Homo sapiens: one gene and its partners. The protein of the gene in region 1 purifies or fractionates together with the protein of each later gene. This does not show direct contact. Each region holds a gene or a part of one and is shown on either strand. Other genes may lie near its edges.

Region 1 (7,022 bases):
CAAGACAGATCGGCTTGCCAAAGGATCAGAATGTTACCAAAAGAGCCTTAGTTTAAATCCTTTCCTCTGGTCTCCCTTTGAATCATTATGTGAAATAGGTAGGTGGGTGGGGTTGAGAGGTGGGTGGGTTCCCATCTCCTCTTCTTTTTTTCCTGCTACTTAATTTTTGGAGAGCAATACAGATCATCTACCCCCAAGAAAAATATTTTTCAAAGTTAAAATTGAGAATAAAAAATAAGTTAGAATCTTCGGTATGTTTCAAGAATCATATAACTGAAAATTACACAAAGATTAAATCCAGTAGATTCTTCTGTTGAACCAATCTATTTTCAAGTATCTGGTGTCCTCTAGAATGGGTTATATTGTGTGTTTAACACTAGCAAAATTGCTTTCTGAATAAGAAAATTAATAAAATTTCTAATGCAATTAATAAATGCCTGAAACTTACAAGACCTGAACAGTACAGGGAGAGAATTTCTCAGTATATTTGGCCTAGGATACATAAAGGACCATTTTTCAGCATTGTTGCATCTATGTATATATAGAAGGGCTTCAACCTTTACTGTAAAATATGATGGGTTTTAACTCTTCAACCTCATCTCCTACTTTGAGAAAAATGAGATCTAGTTATTTTCAGCTTTAAAACAAACACAGAAATCTGCATTTTTCTGCGATTTGTTATGTTTAAAATTAGTGTTCTTGTAGTTTATTTTCATTTACAGCTTTATCTTACTGGTAAACTTTTATGATATATTGATAGATGGGTTTTTTGGGGGTAAATTTGATTAGCAGAAGTGGACAGGAGATTTTTAAAGTTTGGATAAGGCCTATTTCCTGTTTCCACTGATTTATGCATACTTGAAAAACATGTATTCCTCACTTCCTCAGAGACAAACTTTTTTTTTTTTTGTCTTCACAGGTGAAAAGCCAGATCCTGACCAAACATTTAAATTCACATCTTTACAGAACTTTAGCAACTGTCTGCCCAACTCTTGCACAACACAAGTACCTAATCATAGTTTATCTCACAGACAGCCTGAGACAGTTCTTACGGAAACACCCCAGGACACAATTGTAAGTGTCTTATATTCTAGTGTTCAAAATATTATGAAAACTACAAAGAATGATCTGAACTAAATAATATATTGTGAATGACTTGGTAGAAATTTTCTGTTTCAGGAATTAAACAGATTGAATTTAGAATCTTCCAATTCAAAGTACTCCTTGAATACAGATTCCTCAGTGTCTTATATTGATTCAGCTGTAATTTCACCTGATACTGTCCCACTGGGAACAGGAACTTCCATATTATCTAAACAGGTTCAAAATAAACCAAAAACTGGTCGAAGTTTATTAGGAGGACCAGCAGCTCTTAGTCCATTAACCCCAAGGTAAGTCAAACAAGATACTTTCAAATGTGCTATAATACCAAATGATCTTATGATAACTCATATTGTTAGTAATGCAGATTATTACAACAGCAACTTCTAAATCACTGTGGAAACAGGGGCATTCTGTTTTCAGAAAATGAAGTAAAAACTGGCAAATAGTGATGTTGCCAGGTGCGGTGGCTCATGCCTGTAATCCCAGCACCTTGGGAGGCCAAGGCAGGCAGATCACCTGAGGTCAGGAGTTCAAGAACAGCCTGGCCAACATGGTGAAACCCTGTCTCTACTAAAAATACAAAAATTAGCTGGGCATGGTGGCGGGCGCCTGTAATCCCAGCTACTCAGGAGGCTGAGACAGGAGAATTGCTTGAACCCGGGAGGCGGAGGTTGTAGTGAGCCGAGATGGAGCCACTACACTCCATCCTGGGCGACAGACCAAGACTCCAACTCAAAAAAAATTGATATTGAATATTGGACTGGCCAGGCGCAGTGGCTCACGCCTGTAATCCCAGCACTTTGGGAGACCAAGGTGGGCAGATCACGAGGTCAGGAGATCGAGACCATCCTGGCCAACATGGCGAAACCCCGTCTCTACTAAAAATACAAAAAACTAGCCGGGTGTGGTGGCACGCGCCTGTAGATCCAGCTACTCGGGAGGCTGAGGCAAGAGAATCACTTGAACCCGGGAGACAGAGGTTGCAGTGAGCCGAGATGGTGTCACTGCACTCCAGCCTGGGAGACAGGGCAAGACTCCATCTCAAAAAAAAAATTGGAGGAAAATTTAAAACTCTGAAATATTCCTTAATTAGGTAGTAAACACATTAAAAAATACTGTCTTTATGGCTGTGCATTAATGGATAGCGGTGAGCCTCATGAAATGTTATAATCAGGGCACCACTGGTTACTGTTAAAGTGCCTTTTTCCAAAACATGGAGGAAATTTGACACCTACCTTTTTTTGTTTGAGACAGGATCTCACTCTGTCACCCAGGTTAGAGTGCAGTGGCACAATCATAGCTCACTGCAGCCTCAAATTCTTGGGCTCAAGCGATCCTCCCACCTCAGACTCCTGAGTAGCTGGGACTGCAGGCACATGCCACCACACCTGGCTAATTTTTTAAGTGTTTTTGTAGAGATGGGGTCTTGCTGTGTTGCCCAAGCTGATCTGGAACTCCTGGCCTCTAGTGATCCTCCTGCTGTGGCCTCCCAAAGTGCTAGGATTACCGTGAGCCACTGAACCTAGCTGTCACACCTATTAATATAAAATATTTTATCAAAATTATTAGAAGTATATGTATGTATAAATACAGGAACTCAGCCCAGAGGATACATATCCAAAAGTATCAAAATGAAAAATTATGTGCTAGAATGGGTTGGGCATGGGGGCTCATGCCTGTAATCCCAGCACTTTGGGAGGCTGAGGTGGGCAGATCACTTGAGACCAGGAGCTCAAGACCAGTCTGGCCAACATGGTGAAACCCTATCTCTACTAAAATTACAAAAATTAGCCCGGCATGGTGACACATACGTGTAATCCCAGGTACTTTGGGGGTTGAGGCACAAGAATCATTTGAACCCAGCAGGTGGAGGTTGCAGTGAGCTGAGATCATGCCACTGCACTCCAGCCTGGGCAACAGAGCGAGACTCTGTCTCAAAAAAATATATACATATATGCTAGAAGAAATTCTATGAATCAGGTCCTGAGGCCGGGGAACTACTAAAATAGCATGACCATGAGATTACAACTCTGGAGAGTTATAGTTATCTAATGGTCTCTAGAGACATTTTCTCTGTAGTTGTGTCTAAATCCCATAAATTCCAAGAATTTGAAGTAATCTCATCATTTGGATCTTAGATTTATAAAGCTACTCTTCTTTATTTCTAATAAATCTCCTGAGATCAGTAATTGTTGCTCAGTTTAGTTCCTTGTTTGATAGCTTTTTAAAATTTTAGTTATGGTGGGTGGAATAGTCTACATTCACAGCTTATTTTTAATCTGCCCCTCAGATCCTCACTGTCCCTAAGACTGATTTGCCATTCTCTTCCTTTTAGACCTTCTAATTTAAGTATACTGCTGCTTTATATATGCCTTGATGACTTTTTGACACCTTGATTTCAACCTCTTCTCAGTTTTGGGATTTTGCCATTAGAAACCCCAAGTCCTGGAGATGGATCCTATTTACAAAACTACACTAATACACCTCCTGTAATTGATGTGCCATCCACCGGAGCCCCTTCAAAAAAGGTATTTTCCATGTAAAATGCAGTTTGGGAATTGATTAAAGCAACTTGTTTATTTCAATCTTTTAAAGGTAATCTCAGGGAAAATCTTACTTTATGTAATTGCTTTTGCCTTATATTTGAACCCAGCAGGTAGAGGGTGATCTAAATATAAAAGAATGTCATTATTGTTGTAGCCTCTTGGTTACAGTAGGAGACAGACTTCTTACTCTTTTGGCCAAGTAAGATTGTATCTCACAAATTTAGTTTATTTCAGCATATAGTTAAATAAACATAATCATATTTTTACTTTTTAATTTCCTTTTTAAAAAACAAAATTAATATTGTTTATATTACTTGACTATAAATAACAGAAATTATGTCTGCCATAGTTTTTACTTGTCCCTACCACTGTGTATATATGTTTTTTTAATAACACTAATAATTATATGAAAAAAAATTTGCTCAGGTAAAGCCAGATATTTCTGATAATAAGATTTTTGGTAGATCATGGATGTATAGTTTTAACATGAAAATGAAAAATATTTGGTAGTATACTTATAGTAAATATTGCGGCAAGTTTCATGAGGCTTTTTTTTTTTTTTTTTGAGACAGGGTCTCGCTCTCCTGCCCAGGCTGGAGTGCAGTGGTGTGACCATGACTCACTGTAGCCTCTACCTCCCAGGCTCAAGTGATCCTTCCACCTTAGCCTCCCAAGTACCTAGGACTATAGGTGTACACCACCACACCCAGCTAATTTTTTTAACTTTTATTTTTGTAGAGACAGGATCTCACTGTGTTGCCAGGGATGGTCTCAAACTCCTGGGCTCAAGCAATCCTCCTGCCTTGGCCTCTCAAAGTGCTAGGATTATAAACATGAGTCACTGCCCTGCTGAGGCTCTTGTTTTATAATGTTCCCTTTTATAGGTATATGGAAATAGAGGCCAAAATACCATTTTTAAAAAGCATATCTGTGGCACAAGGTAACTTCTGTGAGAATTAAATTAGGTTCTATATATAAAATACCTATTGCCATGCTTCATAAATATTCAAGAAATGGAAGCTAAACAAGTCATACTAATATGTGAATAACAGTTATACTCTCTTTACCTTAATAGAAACATGTTTCTTCTTATAGTTGTTTTTTTACTATTTTACTCCTGAACATCCTTAGAATCTGCAAAAGATTTTTCTATAATAACTCCTTAGTGAGTGATAATAGGAACTCCAAGAATACTTAAAAGGGACTGCAAAATAGTTTGTGTATGGATTGTTTTAAACATTACAGTTATGAAGAAGGCAAAACAAAATGGTAGTTAGCATGCCAGGTGAAGTAGGCCAAAACTAGAAGAGCCATAATAACCATAATAACCAGAGCAAGTTAAGACAGTGGGCAGGCACATGATTTTAGTGCCCAGATAAGATTGCTCTCTCATCCTCTTCTGCCTCTGTTCTCCTCTTACCTTATTACAAGACATTCCCAGAAAAGTCACGCATGTAGGTCTGCATGCAGTGTCAACTGAAAATATCAAACCAGGTATTGAGTGCAGTGTACATAGTTCTTTGATAAATAAGGAAAAGCCAGAGTTGACTTTTGTCCCTTGGATGAATGTAGTGATCCCAATTTGGAAAAGGCGGAGGAAGGCTTATGAAGTTTTATTTTGAAGTGGTGGTACATTAGATGAAAATATTCAGTAGAAAGTTAGTCATAGAGGAAAAAATGTGACCTGCTGATAGAAATAATAATTGAAACTATTAAAATGACCAGGCTCTCCTAGGGAAAGAAAGAGTAGCTAAGGAGAACAGAGTAAACCTAATTTAAAAATAGTAGAAGGATAAAGGGCCAGCAAATGAAGTGGCAGGACAAATAATGTAATGTTTTGGAAGTAACACAAAGTTTCAAAAAGTAGGGCATGATCAGTGATGTTGAATGCAGGAAAGGCTAAAATAAGGTTTTAATATCTGATGAGACAGTGATTATTAGTGATTATTTATAATATGCAGTTTGAGGATTGTGTACAGGACATCAGGGTAACAGTAAGTTTTGAAGAAAATTCTCTGGTAGCCAAAGGGGAAAAACAGTGCACTGATACAATAGTCATAGATCATTTAAAGAAGCTAGATGGTGGAAATGAATAGAAATAAGGGAATAAATTAGAGAAGACTGAAGAGCCAAGCAAAGATTTTTTTTTCTCCAAGGGAACAGAAACCAATTAATGAAGATTAGAAAAACTAAGCAATATTAACTCTAAAGAACAATATCCTTAGGTTTTGGAAAGTAATCAGATGGTTGTTTTTTTAAAATCTACTCCTCTGAACTCCTTTAGAACTGTTACCAAGTGCCAAAGGAGTATAAAATCTTATCGTATTATTATTTTTTTCTGTGTATAATGAGATAAATCATAAATCTTGAGAATTTAGCTGTCTTAAAATTTTTTAGTACTTAACCCCAAATAGAGAAGGTATGTAATAAATGGAGGATGGTCACAATGAGATGAAAAGAATAGCTTCTGGGGATTTTTAGTCTTTGAAACAAAAAGCGAAAGATGAAAAGACATTATAGAGGTAAAAATACTGTGAGATTAAAACAGGGAAATAGACTGATGTTCATACTAATACAACAATAATTAACAATATGATATAAATAGTTTATCTTTAAGGTGACAGTATATTATGGCTGCTTGTATTGAGAAAATGTAGATGGGAGCGTTGTGTTGTCTTTTATCATTTACAGTGCAGCCCATAATTCACAAACCTTAGACTTTTCGTGTTTTACAGTCTGTTGCCAGAATCGGCCAAACTGGAACAAAGTCTGTCTTCTCACAGAGTGGAAATAGCCGAGAGGTAACTCCAATTCTTGCACAAACACAAAGTTCTGGTCCACAAACAAGGTATTTATCATTGTAATTATTCAACTTTTCTTGGCATAAAACTTGATTCTTTACATTTCTTTAATTTAGGCAGATAGTGACTCTCGTGGATTCTAGAATAACTACTGTAAATTTTGAAGATGTAAAATTTGAAACCTCTAACTTACAACACTAATGTAATTTTGAGTTGAGTTTTGTAATGCACAGAAGACAATAGTTAACTAAAGCAGCATTTTAGTTTACTCTGATTGCCTCATGGATTTGTAATTTTCTTCTTATGCACATGACCCTTTCTATAGTTTAGGTACAGATAGGTTTCATACTCCCCTTCCCCACATTATGCATGTCTATAAACAGATTATAAAAATAACAGACAAATAAACTTCAAATAATGAATCTATTTCCACACAGAAATGGTGTTAGATAGGATTTTCTTTTCCTCTTCAAGGACTCAATAGATTATAGCTAACATTTTAAAAGGAAGATACAATTTTCTTTCTCCTTTCTAAAACTGTGAACATGTACCTAAATTTTAAAACAGACAT
Region 2 (7,022 bases), on another chromosome or scaffold:
GGTGGAGAGGGTGAACATCCGTGCGGTCTTGCCACTGGGTAGCAGGTCTGTGGGGCATGAGCACGCCTGGGCCCCGCGGCGGAATTGCCACCTAGAGGTTTGTGCTCGCCTGGGCCCCCCGGCTGGTCTCAAGGGCGTGTTTATCCATTTAAGTGGGGGCAAGTGTGCCCACCAGGCACAGCGCACAGGTCGTGTGTGTCTGTCATGTCTCACGCTAGGGTTGCTGCTGCCAGTGATAAGTGTGGGCACTGGCGCGTGTGAGAGGCACGAAGACTGCAGGGGGGCCGGGACGTCGCCTTTTGGGCCATCACCCACCCTGCAGGTTTTGATGTGCTCCAGCCTCCAGACGCAGGTGGCCTTCGGGCTCCCCTCGGTCCCGGCCGACAGGGTGGGTGGCCGTGAGGCTCCTCCCAGCCTCTGAGTCAGCCCGGGGCTCACCATGCCTCCCTGCAGCTCACACTAGCGTTCTCCTGACAGTGGATCGAGCGGGTGGTCGGCTGGCTCGGCAAGGTGTTCCTGCAGGACGGCCCCGCCAGGCCCGCATCTCCCGAGGCCGGCAACACCCTGCGCCGCTGGCGCTGCCACGTGCAAAGGTTCTTCTACCGCATCTACGCCAGCCTGCGCATCGAGGAGCTCTTCAGCATCGTCCGAGGTGGTCCTGCCCCGGCCCTGGGGTCCGCTCTCCCGTCTGGGGAGTCTTCCCAGGGCCTTCCCCGTGTCTCCTCTGTGTCTGCATCTGGGCTCCCTGTGCCTTCACCGTGTCTGCTCTGTGTCTGCGTCTGGGGCTCCCAGGGCCTTTGCCGTGTCTGCTCTGTGTCTGCGTCTGGGCTCCCTGTGTCTGCGTCTTGGGCTCCCTGTGCCTTCGCCGTGTCTGCTCTGTGTCTGCGTCTGGGCTCCCTGTGTCTGCGTCTGGGCTCCCTGTGCCTTCACCGTGTCTGCTCTGTCTGCGTCTGGGGCTCCCAGGGCCTTCGCCGTGTCTGCTCTGTCTGCGTCTGGGCTCCCTGTGTCTGCGTCTGGGGCTCCCAGGGCCTTCGCTGTGTCTGCTCTGTGTCTGCATCTGGGCTCCCTGTGCCTTCGCCGTGTCTGCTCTGTGTCTGCGTCTTGGGCTCCCTGTGCCTTCACCGTGTCTGCTCTGTGTCTGCGTCTGGGCTCCCTGTGTCTGCGTCTGGGCTCCCCGTGCCTTCACCGTGTCTGCTCTTTGTCTGCATCTGGGGCTCCCAGGGCCTTCGTCGTGTCTGCTCTGTGTCTGTGTCTGGGCTCCTTGTGTCTGCGTCTGGGCTCCCTGTGCCTTCGCCGTGTCTGCTCTGTGTCTGCATCTGGGGCTCCCAGGGCCTTCGCCATGTCGGCTCTGTGTCTGCATCTGGGCTCCCTGTGTCCACGTCTGGGGCTCCCTGTGCCTTCGCTGTCGCTCTTGCAGGGGGGTGCACCGGGCAGTGCTGGGACTGTCCCCACTGCGGCGTCCCCCGTGCCTGGATCAGGGCAGGTGTGGCAGATGCTGGACAGTGCTTCTGGGTGTCCACTGCTGTGCTGCCTTGGCCTTGGCTCCTGCTGGGGACTGGCCCCTGGGTGTTGCTCTGTCCACCCTGTGGCATTGTGGTCAAATGCATCAGCACGCCAGAGTGTCGGGGGGATGTCTGGTGCCTAGCAGGTGGTCTCATCATCGTCCTGGGGCTGGCAAGCACGTGTCCTTTCCCACACCGCACACACTCTGCACCAGCCTGCACGTGCGCACGCATCCATGTCTGTCCCTGAGGGATGTTCTTCTTCTTGTAGACTTCCCAGACTCCCGGCCAGCCATCGAGGACCTCAAGTACTGCCTGGAGAGGACGGACCAGAGGCAGCAGCTGCTCGTGTCCCTCAAGGCTGCCCTGGAGACTCGGCTCCTGCATCCAGGTGCTGTGTGCTGCCCGGCCACCCAGCACTCTGGGCTTAGACACTCACCAGGGGACCCATGTCCAGGGAGCCTGGGGCCTAGTCTGCCAGCCCTGGACTTGTAGGTCTAAGGAAGAAATGGGTTGAGAAGCAATTGGTGAGGTCCTTAGGGGATCTGAGGTGCCCGTCAGCTTGCTTGTTTCTTCTTTGGAGGGAGTCAGGACTGACCGGTAGGTCTGAGGTGATGAGACTTAGTTCTCTCAGAACAGACCTCCCTGCAGGGCGGGACCTGTGAACAGGTAGAGGTGGGGATGGGGGGACAAGGGAACGAGGCTGCAGTGGGGACCTGTAGACCACCTACCGGCATGGCCAGCTGTCTACTCGGGTGTTGCCCCTGGGAGGCTGTGGTCCCGGGCACTGCATGACTGCTGGCTTCTGCCCTGGCTGTAGGCGTCAACACGTGTGACATCATCACCCTCTATATCTCTGCCATCAAGGCGCTGCGCGTGCTGGACCCTTCCATGGTCATCCTGGAGGTGGCCTGTGAGCCTATCCGCCGCTACCTGAGGTGAGGGCTGCAGCTGGCCCAGGAGCCACTGGGACCCTGGGCATCCTGCTGAGCTCCTCGTGGTCCTGGGGGGCAGCCGGAGGGTGTGTTCGGCCGTCAGGACACAAGGTCTCCCCCGGCTGGGCTGAGTGCACGGGATCAGGCCCGAGGCTCTTTCCTTTCCTCTTGCCCGTGCCGGGCACCTGTCCTTGTCACACGGTGTCACCGTGCCCTCTGTGTGCAGCTGCCAGAGGCCCACCACAGCCCTTCCTCAGCCTCCCCATCTCCAGCACAGAGAGAAGCTCTTCCACTTGGCCTCGCCTTGGTGCTGACCAGTCCCCAAGGCCGACCAGGCAAGGGGAGTGGGCTCTGCTGTCCTGGCCTTTCCCACGGCAAGGAACAGACACTCCTGGGGCTGTTCGGTGGAGAATGTGTTGGGATGAGGACCTTGACATGGCTGCCTGGGAATTCCTCAGGGGTCGCAGAGGCCCTGGCCCGGGGCTGGCAGGCACAGTGGCCCCCAGGAGCCGAGCAGCAGGAGCCGGTGGAGTCTGGCCCCTACCTGGACTCCTTTGGTGCTTTGTGGCTGTAACTGGCCTGGCTTCTGAGCCAGTTCTTTGTTTTTTCTTTTTTTTTTGAGATGGAGTCTCACTCTTTCGCCCAGGCTGGAGTGCAGTGGCACGATCTCTGCTCACTGCAAGCTCCGCCTCCCGGGTTCACGCCATTCTCCTGCCTCAGCCTCCCGAGTAACTGAGACTACAGGCCGCCACCAAGCCTGGCTAACTTTTTGTATTTTTAATAGAGATGGGGTTTCACCATGTTAGCCAGGATAGTCTTGATCTCCTGACCTCGTGATCCGCCTGCCTCGGCCTCCTGAAGTGCTGGGATTACAGGCGTGAGCCACCGTGCCCGGCCCTTTTTTCTTTTTCTTTTTCTTTTTTTTGAGGCAGGCTCTCGCTCTGTTGGAGTGCAGTGGCAGAATCCTGTCTCCCTGCAGCCTCGGACACCTGGGCTTAGGTCTTCTGGCTTAGTGTCCCTATGTGCTGGGATTGCAGGTGCGCAGGCCGGCCTTGCGCTCGCAGCTCCTGCTGCTCCCAAGTAACGTTGGGTTTATTTGTTTTTAAGGAGTCTGACGGGCCTGTGTTTAGTACATAGCCCATCACCACTGAGTGTAGAGGCAGGGTCGGTGGTGCTGGCCTAGATGGGGCCGGGACTGGAATGAGTGGTGGGAGGTGCGCGCGGGGTGTCCACACTGTGGGCCACAGCAGCACTCACATCGGCAGGACGCGGGAGGACACAGTGCGGCAGATTGTGGCTGGGCTGACGGGGGACTCGGACGGGACAGGGGACCTGGCTGTTGAGCTGTCCAAGACCGACCCGGCGAGCCTGGAGACAGGCCAGGACAGTGAGGATGACTCAGGCGAGCCAGAGGACTGGGTCCCGGACCCTGTGGATGCCGATCCAGGTTAGCTTGCCCCACATGGTCCCTTTCACCAGTGTGGGGGGCGCTTCAGCCAGGCCGTCCGCTCTGGACTCATCCCTTGTCACAGAGCTTGGCTGTGTCAGGTGTCGCTAGTGTCTCAGAGGCTTGAGGGTGTCAAAGGTCAGGGCAGTGCTCCGCCACCTGCCAGCCTGGGCAGGCCGGTGATGGGCTGTTTTCCTCTGTGGCTGGTCACTCTGGCCGTGGGGGATGCCCTGCCTCCCACCGCTTGTGAGCTGTGGGGTGTCCCTGCCCCGCCACTGCACCTGGCAGAGGAGTGAAGATGTGGGTGACCCCTGAGCTCTGTACTGATTTGGGCCTCAAAGTCCCGTTAGGGTGCCAGCTCCTGCTCAGAGCCCATCTGTGCCTGGCCCTCGTCTGCGAGGGCTCTGAGGGCTATGGGGCCCAGGCCTGGCCCCTGCCCTGGCACAGATGGTAAGTCTTCAACACATCTTTAGTCTCTCTCAGAGGAAAACCCCAGGACCTTTGGCTTGTCCCCTAAGCCTGCATGGGAGTCCCGGAAGGTCCCTGTGGGGTGAGAGGGGCTGGGGATTGAAGCTGTTGCTCCAGGACCTGACTCCAGGTCTCCCGGGAGGCTCAGGGCTGCTCCCAGCCTCGAGGGCCTTCAGGAAGAGCCATGCTGGGCTGTGCCGTCTGGCTGGGCGGGATGGGAGGAGGGCGGCCCTGTCCTTGCCCAGGTGCCTGTCAGGTGACACCCCTGCCCCCACCATGCCAGGGAAGTCGAGCTCCAAGCGGCGTTCATCGGACATCATCAGCCTGCTGGTCAGCATCTACGGCAGCAAGGACCTCTTCATCAATGAGTACCGCTCGCTGCTGGCCGACCGCCTGCTGCACCAGTTCAGCTTCAGCCCCGAGCGGTGAGGCCTGTGACGCGCTGGCCATCTCCAGGGGTGCCGGGGCCTTTGCCCAGCCTCTCTCGGGACAGGGCCCTGACGCCGTGCCTGGGGCCTGGTTGGAGCTGTGCTTCCGCCCCCACTCCTGGCTGGGGGTGTGCTAGCCATTGGGGTGCCCACACAGGCTCCCTGCTCTGCCTGGGGGGCACCCCCGTGCCCTGCCACAGGTGCTCCTTGGGGCTGGGGCTCATCACGACCCCCTGCCCAGACACTCGTCTTTCCAGGGAGATCCGCAACGTGGAGCTGCTGAAGCTGCGCTTTGGCGAGGCCCCAATGCACTTCTGTGAAGTCATGCTGAAGGTGGGTCCCAGCCCCGCCCGCTGCCCGGCCGCCCCGCAGGTCCCCCGTGACACCGGCTCCTCCTCAGGACATGGCGGACTCCCGCCGCATCAATGCCAACATCCGGGAGGAGGATGAGAAGCGGCCAGCAGAGGAGCAGCCACCGTTCGGGGTCTACGCTGTCATCCTGTCCAGTGAGTTCTGGCCGCCCTTCAAGGACGAGAAGCTGGAGGTCCCCGAGGATATCAGGGCAGCCCTGGAGGCTTACTGCAAGAAGTATGAGCAGCTCAAGGTACCTCCATGCCAGGCCACCCCATGGGCTCTTGGCACCCCTACCCTGCACTGCGGGGCTCCCAGCAGCCTGGTGCCTGTGGCTGCCCCGTTGTCACCCGAGTGTCTCTGGGTTGGTCCTGTCTCGCAGCCGCCTCTGCAGGAGAGGGAGTGGGCCTGGCCCACGCTCTCTCCGCCTTCCTCCCAGCAACCCCGTGTCCCCTGTGAGCGAGCGTCCGCGCGGCCCACAGGCGCTTGGGTGGGCTGTGCTGGGCCCAGGTCTCCTGAACTGCTTCAGGGGGACCCCTGTGGCCACAGCAGGCCCTGCCCTCTGAGCGTTTCCTCCTCTTTTGCTATCCACCCTCTGCCTCTCAGAACCGGGGCTTGGGGTGCCTTGCGTCACTGCAGGGAGGCAGCTAGGGAGCCAGGGCTGCCCTCTGCCCAGGGCAGCACTCCCAGGCGCACCTGACCCCCAGGACCCCAGCCCTGCCCCCTTCTCCAGGTCTGTTTCCTCGAGAACTGCCTTTGCAGGCTCCAGTGGTACTTGAGGACCGGGGCTATGGGTCTGTGGTGGGAGTAGGAGGGGAGCAGATGTGGGGAGTGGAGGAGTGAGCCCTGGCCTGGAGGTCACTGGCAGATGGGGACAGTGTGCCCAGAGGATGGTATTGGCCACGTTTGGCTCACTTCCCCTGGCAGCACTGCTGAGATCCCAGCAGTCCCAGTACAGGCGTCCAGAGCCTGAGGGATGGAACTAGGCTTGGCGGTTCTTTCCCTGAGCTCATAGTCAGGTGGGAGGTGTCAGCTCGGGGAGGAAGGGTTAGGATGGTCGTCACAGGTGGGAGGTGTCGGCTCGGGGAGGAAGGGGTCGGGATGGTCGTCACAGGCGGGTTCCAGGGCTTTCTGTCTGATGTGTGGGGCCTGTGAGGCCTCCAGTGTGCCCAGCGAGTGCTCAGGACTGGGGGGAGGCGGGCACCCCAGCGGGGGACATGTGAGGAGAGGGTTCTGGGGCACAGCCAGCATCCAGTCTGCAGACCCCAACCCCAGGTACCCCAGGAAGGGGATGGTCCAGCCTCGGCCCAGGCAGGAGGAGCAGCCTCAGGACAGAGCCGCCAGGAGGCCGGCGGGCGGGCGGGGCTGAGTTCAAGGGAGGGTCCACAGCTTCTCCAGGTCTGCTGTGAAGGAGGCTGGACCTAGATGTGTTTTCCTTTTTCTTTTGCAAGTAAGAGGGCCTTGCTGTGTTGACAAACCAAGGGAACTTACTCCTAGGGGAGGGCAGGGCGATGTGTCCACTTTAGAAACCAAGGGGGAAGCTTCCTTCCGGAGACAGACAAGGGGAGGGCCAGGCGGAGGCCCCCAGGGCAGGAGGCCAAGGGGCTGTGGTAGGGCCGGGCTGCTGACCATGGTGGCGAATGCCTGCTGCCTCCCTCCAGGCCTCAGCTTGGCTCTGGAAGAGTCCAGGTGTCCCTTGCAGCTTGTGGAGGGTCTGTGTGGCTTGCACCTGCTCTCGGTGGAAAGGAGCACCCTGGCCATCCCCACACCTCGAGCTCTGGCCTGTGATACAGCCTGGTGTCTCTGGAGCCTGCGGGCACCGTGCCCCGCTGTGTTCTGGTACAAATCATCCGTGTGGCCCGGCTCCGTGCTCGGTCCCTTTCCCCCTGCC
Region 3 (7,176 bases), on another chromosome or scaffold:
CTGAAGAGATGGTATAATCCACTATTAGGATTCTCCAGGCTTTTTAGTCTGGGGCCACCTTTTGGGAAAAGGTTCATTTTCTCATATGGGCCGGGTGACTACTTTGATCACAGTTCCTCTCTCCAACCCCAACTGATACATATTTTATAGTGTATACTGGACAGGCATAGCCCAGCTGACAGACCAGTGTCATAGAGTGTGACAGGAGAGCAACACGTTAAACGAGGCCCTCAAATATTAATATGTTGCATCTCAATGTAGCTCTTCTCTTCTAACTTGAACATTCACCTTTTCCTGTTTGTGATGCCTTTGATGAGTCCCTGATTCATAATGGCCAGCTAAGTTTCCTTTCTAGCCCCTGGCTCAAACCTCAGCATTCTTAGGCACAGGAGTCACACGAACATACTGTAAAGGAAACGGCTTCCTTCCCTAAAATAGTACCCAGGCTGAGATCTGAATAAAGCACTTCTAGGTGAACACCAGTGGTAGAACCTCATACTGCTAAAGTTTCTCCAGTTTCTGCTTCCCTTTGGGGTAGCTCCTTCCTCGGAGGTTCCTTCCTCTAATTCTTAACGCTACACTCCCTTCAATTTCTGGCCCAAATGGTCACGATGCTTATTTAGCTCCTTGACCATGGCTGATTCCCCATTTTTCTCTGAAACTGCTATAATCTAATCCAAAAGGCTGGCTAGCTTGTAGGATACTTCTGGATTTCCCTGTTTCCAAGGTTGGGCCCTGACTCATCATAGGCATCATCCTATGGGTGCTCCCTGCTACCAAGTGACAATCCAAAAAGCCCGGAAGCCACTGGCATCAAAGGTACTCTCAGTTTCTGAGACTATGGAGACTCACACAATAAGCAATTTTGGGGTGGTGGAGCGGGGTGGAACCCACCATCTGGAGGTGCTTTTTTCAGAGCTCAGCCTGGGTGATATTTTAAGGAAGGAAGCCATTTCCTTTACAAGCTCAACTTCAGACATCGTCTTGCCTTGAGGATTTGTGTCAGGTCTGTAGTTGGTCCCTTCGCATAGTCCAGTTTAGTGTTATCTCAGTATGTTCATGAGCTCCTGTGCCTAAGAACGCTGAGGTTTGGGCCAAGGCAGGTGGAAGTTTTTGTAAAAATGGCTCACAGGGCCGGGCGCGGTGGCTCGCGCCTGTAATCCAGCACTTTGGGAGACCGAGGTGGGCGGATCACGAGGTCAGGAGATCAACACCATCCTGGCTAACAGGGTGAAACCTCGTCTCTACTAAAAATACAAAAAATTAGCCGAGCATGGTGGCAGGCGCCTGTAGTCCCAGCTACTCGGGAGGCTGAGGCAGGAGAATGGCGTGAACCTGGGAGGCGGAGCTTGCAGTGAGCCGAGATAGCGCCACGCGCCACTGCACTCCAGCCTGGGCGACAGAGCAAGATTCCGTCTCGGAAAAAAAAAAACAAAAAAAACCAAAAAGGCTCACAGCTGTCCCCCATAGGATAACTGCAAGATATCCCTAACACCTTGGCAAAAATTATACACAGATTGGTGTGGGAAAGGGTTTACACCCCCATGACAAGGATCTCGGCAAAAGTTAAGCAAAATGCGCCCTGCTACTTCTGTCACCGGTGAGCCAGGTGAGGGCTTAATTAATCCAGTACTCAATAATTAACCGAGTACTACCCAGTGGATAACTCAAAGCAAGACGAAGTTTTGGTTATACTTTTGAAGTCCCTGTCTTACAAGTGCTCCCCACTTTCCTGCTGCTACTCCTTTGTCCTTGCTGCTCTGTCTCCTGGGATACCCTTCTCACTTTCCTCAGCTGATCCAAACCTGACTTTCGGAGGCCCACGTAGATTTTCCACCTTTGTAAAGTTTTCTCAAATCACTCGAGCTTCAGTAGGCCTTCTATCCTTGAACTCTTGCTTCTTGTCCTAACTTAATCTACTAAACAAGCTAGGTCAGCTTTGTGGTCAATTGCTCAGGTATTATTGCCTCCAACTGTTACGTGTACATTTTGTACCCATGATTCCTTAGTAGATCTTTCCACATTTGGTCTCAATCTTTTTCACCTGTCCCTTCTCCAAACACCTCCAACCCTGTCACATTTTCCAGCCTTGACAGTTAAAACCCCCTTTTCCACATCACTAATGCCACTCTTCCTTTCAAGATAAACGCAGGCGTCAGCTCTTGAAGGTCAACATCCCATTTCCGGGATTAGGCGCGAAGGTGCCTTCCCTCATAAGGGGCTGGAAGGATGGGAAGCATCAAGATAATCAATGCCCAGGGCACACTGATTATCTTGTGTATTAAAGCCACCGTCCCAAGTACTCGTCACCCAGTACGACCACTGTTTCCTGAACAAACTTTTCTTACTCACGTGACAGTCCCGATGCCTGCAATGCTCTTTGTTTCTTCCTTTTTATTCCAGTGAACCCACAGTCAGTCTAAAAATCTTAGGTCCCAGGTCGCTTCCTATAGGAGGCCGCCTCCAAACCCCAGGCTGAGTGCGGTCCCGGTACCCACCCCTCCAGGGGTCTCACAGTTCCCTAAGCACAGAGCATGGCACCAACTGGGGAGTCTGTCAAACAGCCCAGATGAATGTCTTTCCAAACACGCGGTGCCTGCGTTTCCAGGGACAGGGACACGTCTTATCAATTTCTATATATTACAGCTTTGTAAACATAATATTTATAAAATCAAAGCGGGAAAGCCTTGTTCCTTGCTAGAAATGAGCCTCGCAGGCCACCACCATCCGCACCGTACGACAGGCCGTCCCTCAGCTGCGGCTTCCTGCCTCAGGCAGGATGTACCAAACGTGGAAGCGGAGACGGGGAGGTCTGGGGGTGCCACGCAAGTCCCTTTCCTCCCGACACGAGTGCAGTAAAGAAAAACGGTTATGAGCGTAAAGTGACAGCCTCGGCCGATGGGAATAGGGGGAAGTCCGACACTGAGCAACGAACGCATTCCCGCGCCTCCAAAACCTAGGCCGGGGGCGCTGGAAACCCTTACCGGCACCCGGCCACCGCGGCAGACGCTTGCTCCTGCCACGCCCCCCCCCCCTCCCCCGCATCACGTGTCTGCACTCGCTTTCCTCGGATTCCCGGATGTGGGTGAGTTCATTTGCTCGCGTGCAGGGGAAGTCTGGAGAAGGCATTGTTTCAATTATTAAAAGTGTGGGGGCAGTGGGCGGAACAAACGCGCCGACTACAGAGGCTGGACGTAAGCTTAGCGGTGGCGCGCGTGCGCAGCGCCGGCCCGAGGTAACGGCGGGAAGGCTCAGGGGCGTGCTTGCGGCAACCCTGTAACCGCCGGTGCGCAAGTTGGAGGGGCAAGGGGCTGCCGTGTCCTGGTCTGGAGGCGGCCCAGGCTGCCTTGGTGATTCTGGCTTCGCGGCCTCATGGCTTGCGGCCGGTTTGCGCAACGGCCTGCGAACCACCAGGCGCGTCCCCGCCGGCTTGGGTCCGCCCCGAAGCCCAGTCCCTCGGCCTGGCCCGCTATGCCCTGCACACTGGCGGAGTCTGGCGTGGCGCAGCCCGGCGTGGGGTTCGGCCCCGCCAGGTGGTCAGCCCTTCCTCGGAGTCCAGGTGGCTGGGGGCGCTTCGGAGAGTGGCCAGGTGGGCGAGCGAGCTGCGCCCAGTACTCACCTTCCCCGGCGGACCCACCTTCCTTTTCAGCGGAGAGACCCCAGTGCGGCCTCCCTGCCAGGGCTGCTGTCTAGCTAGCGCTGTTGGGACTACTTCATTCACGGCACAAGGGGACCCGCTCATTTAGTGTGGCATGTTAAGGTTGGCAGCTTTTAAAATAGTGAGTTGGTTTAAACGGTTATGTTAGTACAAGAGGTACGGAAATGTGGCATAAATCGTGGACTGAAATTGGAGAACCCTGAACTAACGGCTCCATGCACACAAATGAGGGATAGAAAGAAATAAGGACGGTTTCTTAGGAACACTTTAATCATGGAGATACTTGAAGACAGTACATTTAGGCTTATAATGTGGTTTTTCTTACGTCCCTTACGACATCAGGAGAGTAAAGATGAGTATGATGTCAGAGACAGGTCGTCTTTTACAGTTTCAGCACCGTACGCTGATATGCACAGAGTAGTTTTCCCTGAGCCTTATGTCTGGTTAAACTTATTAAAAGAATTTATTATTTTAATAAAGCAGTATTGTAGGGTAGATGCCCTGTATTTATACAGTTCCTCAAGTGCTTGCATTTATTTTTTAGATACGAGGAAATCATAAGGATCGTTGATTAGATTTCTGTTAGCTGTAGCTTAATGATAAAGTGTATATATTTTCTTATTTGGCATGCAGTACCATTTTTAGATTGATTTTTATTTTGAGTTTGCTTTTTGACTGTGGCATTATCAGTGATCAGGGTAGTAAAAAGCTCTGAAACTAAATTAGAGTAGAGATTTATAAACAGGCACACTGCCTTTTAAAATGTATGTAGATGCAAATCTAAAAGTTGTTTGTAAAAATTGTGTATGTTGATTGTACTGATGCCATTTCCTCTCGTTAAAATGGTGGAAGACCTTTGCTTAGTCCTTTCTGTTCTAATTTATGTTGTGCTGGCAGATGGTGACAGCATCAGTAGTCCACTCTGTCATTGCTTCCTGCTTTCAAAAAATGTCAACTTGACTTGAAATTCAGCTAAAGCCAACATTGACAGAAGGTTTCAGGAACTGAATCTCCGATCTTTATGTTATTTTAGTCCGCCTCCCCGCCCCCATCAGGAGCTAGGTTTTTCAGTTTTACAGAGCCACAGTACTGTCATTACACATACACAAATTAATAAAAATTCTCTAATGTCAATATCCAGTCAGATAACGATTTCTTCAACTGTCTCTTAAATGTCTTTTTACAATTAGCTTGTTTGAACCAAAATCCCACAGGGATCTGCCTATTGTGTTTGGGTGATGCACATTTGACATCTTTTAATCTATATTTGTTCCCTCATAGTTATAGCTATGGGATTAGCCCCTATTTTTCCTTACAGTTCTAAATTTAGCAGATTGCATCGCACAGTATCCTTTAACATGTATCTCTGTTGCCTTTGTGTCCTCTAAACCAGGGGCCCCCAAACCCGGGGCCGCAGAGCAGTACCAGTCCGTGGCCTGTTAGGAACCAGGCTACAGAGCAGGAGGTGAGTGACAGGCTAGTGAGCATTACCTACCACCTGAGCTCTGCCTCCTGTCAGATCAGCCGTGAGGTTAGATTCTCCTAGGGGCACGAACCCTATTGTAAACTGCGCATGCAAGGAATCTAGGTTGCACACTTATAAGAATCTGACTAATGCCTGATGATCTGAGGTGGAATAGTTTCATCCTGAAACCATGCCCCTAACCCTGTCCATGTGTATTATTCATATTACTGAAGAAGTGGTTGGCCGGGCGCGGTGACTCACGCCTGTAATCCCAGCACTTTGGGAGGCCGAGGTGGGCATGAGGTCAGGAGTTTGAGACCAGTGTGGCCAACATAGTGAAACCCCGTCTCTACTGAAAATGCAATAAAATTAGCCGAGTGTGGTGGTGTGCGCCTGTAATCCCAGCTACTCGGGAGGCTGAGGCAGGAGAATCACGTGAATCCGGGAGGCGGAGGTTGCAGTGAGCCGAGATCACACCATTGCTCTCCAGACCAGGCAAGAGTGCAAGACTCGGTCTCAAAAAACAAAAAAAAGTGGTTTGGCCATTCCTCCCCCAAAACATTTCATATGAATTTTAACAAAAAGATATTTACAAAATGTGTTATTTCCGCCCTGTCGGTGTTGAGAAATTGTCTTCCATGAAACAGGTCCCTGGTGCCAAAAAGGTTGGGGACCACTGCTCTAAACCAGTAGTTAGATGTAGAATTGCACTGTCCGGTATTGTAGCCACCAGCCAGCAGTGGCTAGTTAATTAAAGTGAAATAAAATTAAAAATTCAGTTCCTAGGCTGGGCGCGGTGGCTCACGCCTGTAATCCCAGCACTTTGGGAGGCTGAGGTGGGTGGATCACGAGGTCAGGAGTTCGAGACCAGCCTGACCAACATGGTGAAACCCCGTCTCTACTAAAAATGAAAAATTAGCCGGGCGTGGTGGCATGCGCCTGTAATCTCAGCTACTAAGGAAGCTGAGGCAGGAGAAGGAGAATCGCTTGAACCCGGGAGGTGGAGGTTGCAGTGAGCCGAGATCACGCCACTGCACTCCAGCCTGGGTGACGGAGCGAGACTGTCTCAAAAAAAAAAAAAAAAAAAAAATTCAGTTCCTAACTTGCATTAGCCACATTTCAAGTGCTCGGTAGCTACAGATTGCCTGGTGGCTGCTTTTTGAACAGTGCAGTTATAAAATATTTTCATAATTGCAGAAAGTTGTATTGAACAGCACTGCTCTAGAAGCCTGATGAGATTTCACCCTTATATTTGTTTTTGTTTTGTTTTTTGGTGGGATAGTTGGGGGGGTTGGACAGATAATTTCATAGGTAATGCAGTATACTTCCTATTTCATTAATTATCAGGGAAGCAGTGTCTGAGTTGTTTTCTTTTTTTATGATGTTAACATTAAACATTATATTGGGTTTAGGTGTAGTTAGCTCCATCCACCCATAGTGAAATTCCCCAAGACTCTTTCACTTAGTGGTGAAGTCCTTTTGTGGGGTTATATTGCCTGTATCCGTTATTGCATTAGAGGTTGCAACGTGGTGATTATCTAATTCTATTATTTCTTCAATATTTATCAACTGAGAGTCTTTTATGAAGAACTTTCCCTTTCCAGCTGTTTGACTACCCTGAAATACAATTTGTACAGGAAAGGCAAGAAAAATGCTTAATTCTTTGCCTCTATTTTCAGACCACAGTAATGAGTTGGTGGCCTAGCAGCCTCCAAAGGTAACCATGAGGGTTTTTGCCTTTTTGTAAACCTATAATCATGAACTTATAGACTTTATATTTAAACTGTTTCAACATATGGCAGTTGTGTTTTTAATACTCAAATTGTTTCATCTTTGGCCAGTGGGAGCTCCTTAAAGTTGGCTCCTATTCCATTTGATATGACCAATAGCTTTGGTAATTTCCTTGCTTTCTGGTAAATAATTTTCCTGGCTCATTTATAGATTTCTGGTCTTCAAGGAGCCGTGGTTCTTTTGAGTCTGAGATAGTATTTGGAGACCACAGTCTTACCTAGGTGGGAGAGGTGTTCTTGCTACTAGGTTAGTCGTTAGTTCT

What was found. The genes of interacting proteins can lie anywhere in the genome.
Region 2: the proteins of CDC27 (region 1) and ANAPC2 purify together in Homo sapiens (affinity purification with western blotting; 20 studies listed by BioGRID and IntAct, with this or other methods). This does not show direct contact.
Region 3: the proteins of CDC27 (region 1) and ANAPC13 purify together in Homo sapiens (affinity purification with mass spectrometry; 6 studies listed by BioGRID and IntAct, with this or other methods). This does not show direct contact.

What each region holds. Positions count from the first base shown.
Region 1 is NC_000017.11:47,151,282-47,158,303, reverse strand, and holds part of CDC27 (cell division cycle protein 27 homolog), read left to right. Parts: coding exon 1-98; intron 99-919; coding exon 920-1,074; intron 1,075-1,179; coding exon 1,180-1,391; intron 1,392-3,439; exon of another isoform or gene 3,440-3,517; coding exon 3,518-3,632; intron 3,633-6,367; coding exon of another isoform or gene 6,368-6,385; coding exon 6,386-6,498; intron 6,499-7,022. UniProt on the Homo sapiens protein: Component of the anaphase promoting complex/cyclosome (APC/C), a cell cycle-regulated E3 ubiquitin ligase that controls progression through mitosis and the G1 phase of the cell cycle.
Region 2 is NC_000009.12:137,178,543-137,185,564, reverse strand, and holds part of ANAPC2 (anaphase-promoting complex subunit 2), read left to right. Parts: intron 1-477; coding exon 478-652; intron 653-1,773; coding exon 1,774-1,893; intron 1,894-2,322; coding exon 2,323-2,440; intron 2,441-3,702; coding exon 3,703-3,884; intron 3,885-4,635; coding exon 4,636-4,777; intron 4,778-5,037; coding exon 5,038-5,113; intron 5,114-5,180; coding exon 5,181-5,384; intron 5,385-7,022. UniProt on the Homo sapiens protein: Together with the RING-H2 protein ANAPC11, constitutes the catalytic component of the anaphase promoting complex/cyclosome (APC/C), a cell cycle-regulated E3 ubiquitin ligase that controls progression through mitosis and the G1 phase of the cell cycle.
Region 3 is NC_000003.12:134,482,968-134,490,143, forward strand, and holds the start of ANAPC13 (anaphase-promoting complex subunit 13), read right to left. Parts: upstream 3,019-7,176; 5' UTR 2,985-3,018; exon of another isoform or gene 2,353-2,984; intron 1-2,352. Other genes in the region: CEP63 (centrosomal protein of 63 kDa), read left to right, coding at 3,753-3,760. UniProt on the Homo sapiens protein: Component of the anaphase promoting complex/cyclosome (APC/C), a cell cycle-regulated E3 ubiquitin ligase that controls progression through mitosis and the G1 phase of the cell cycle.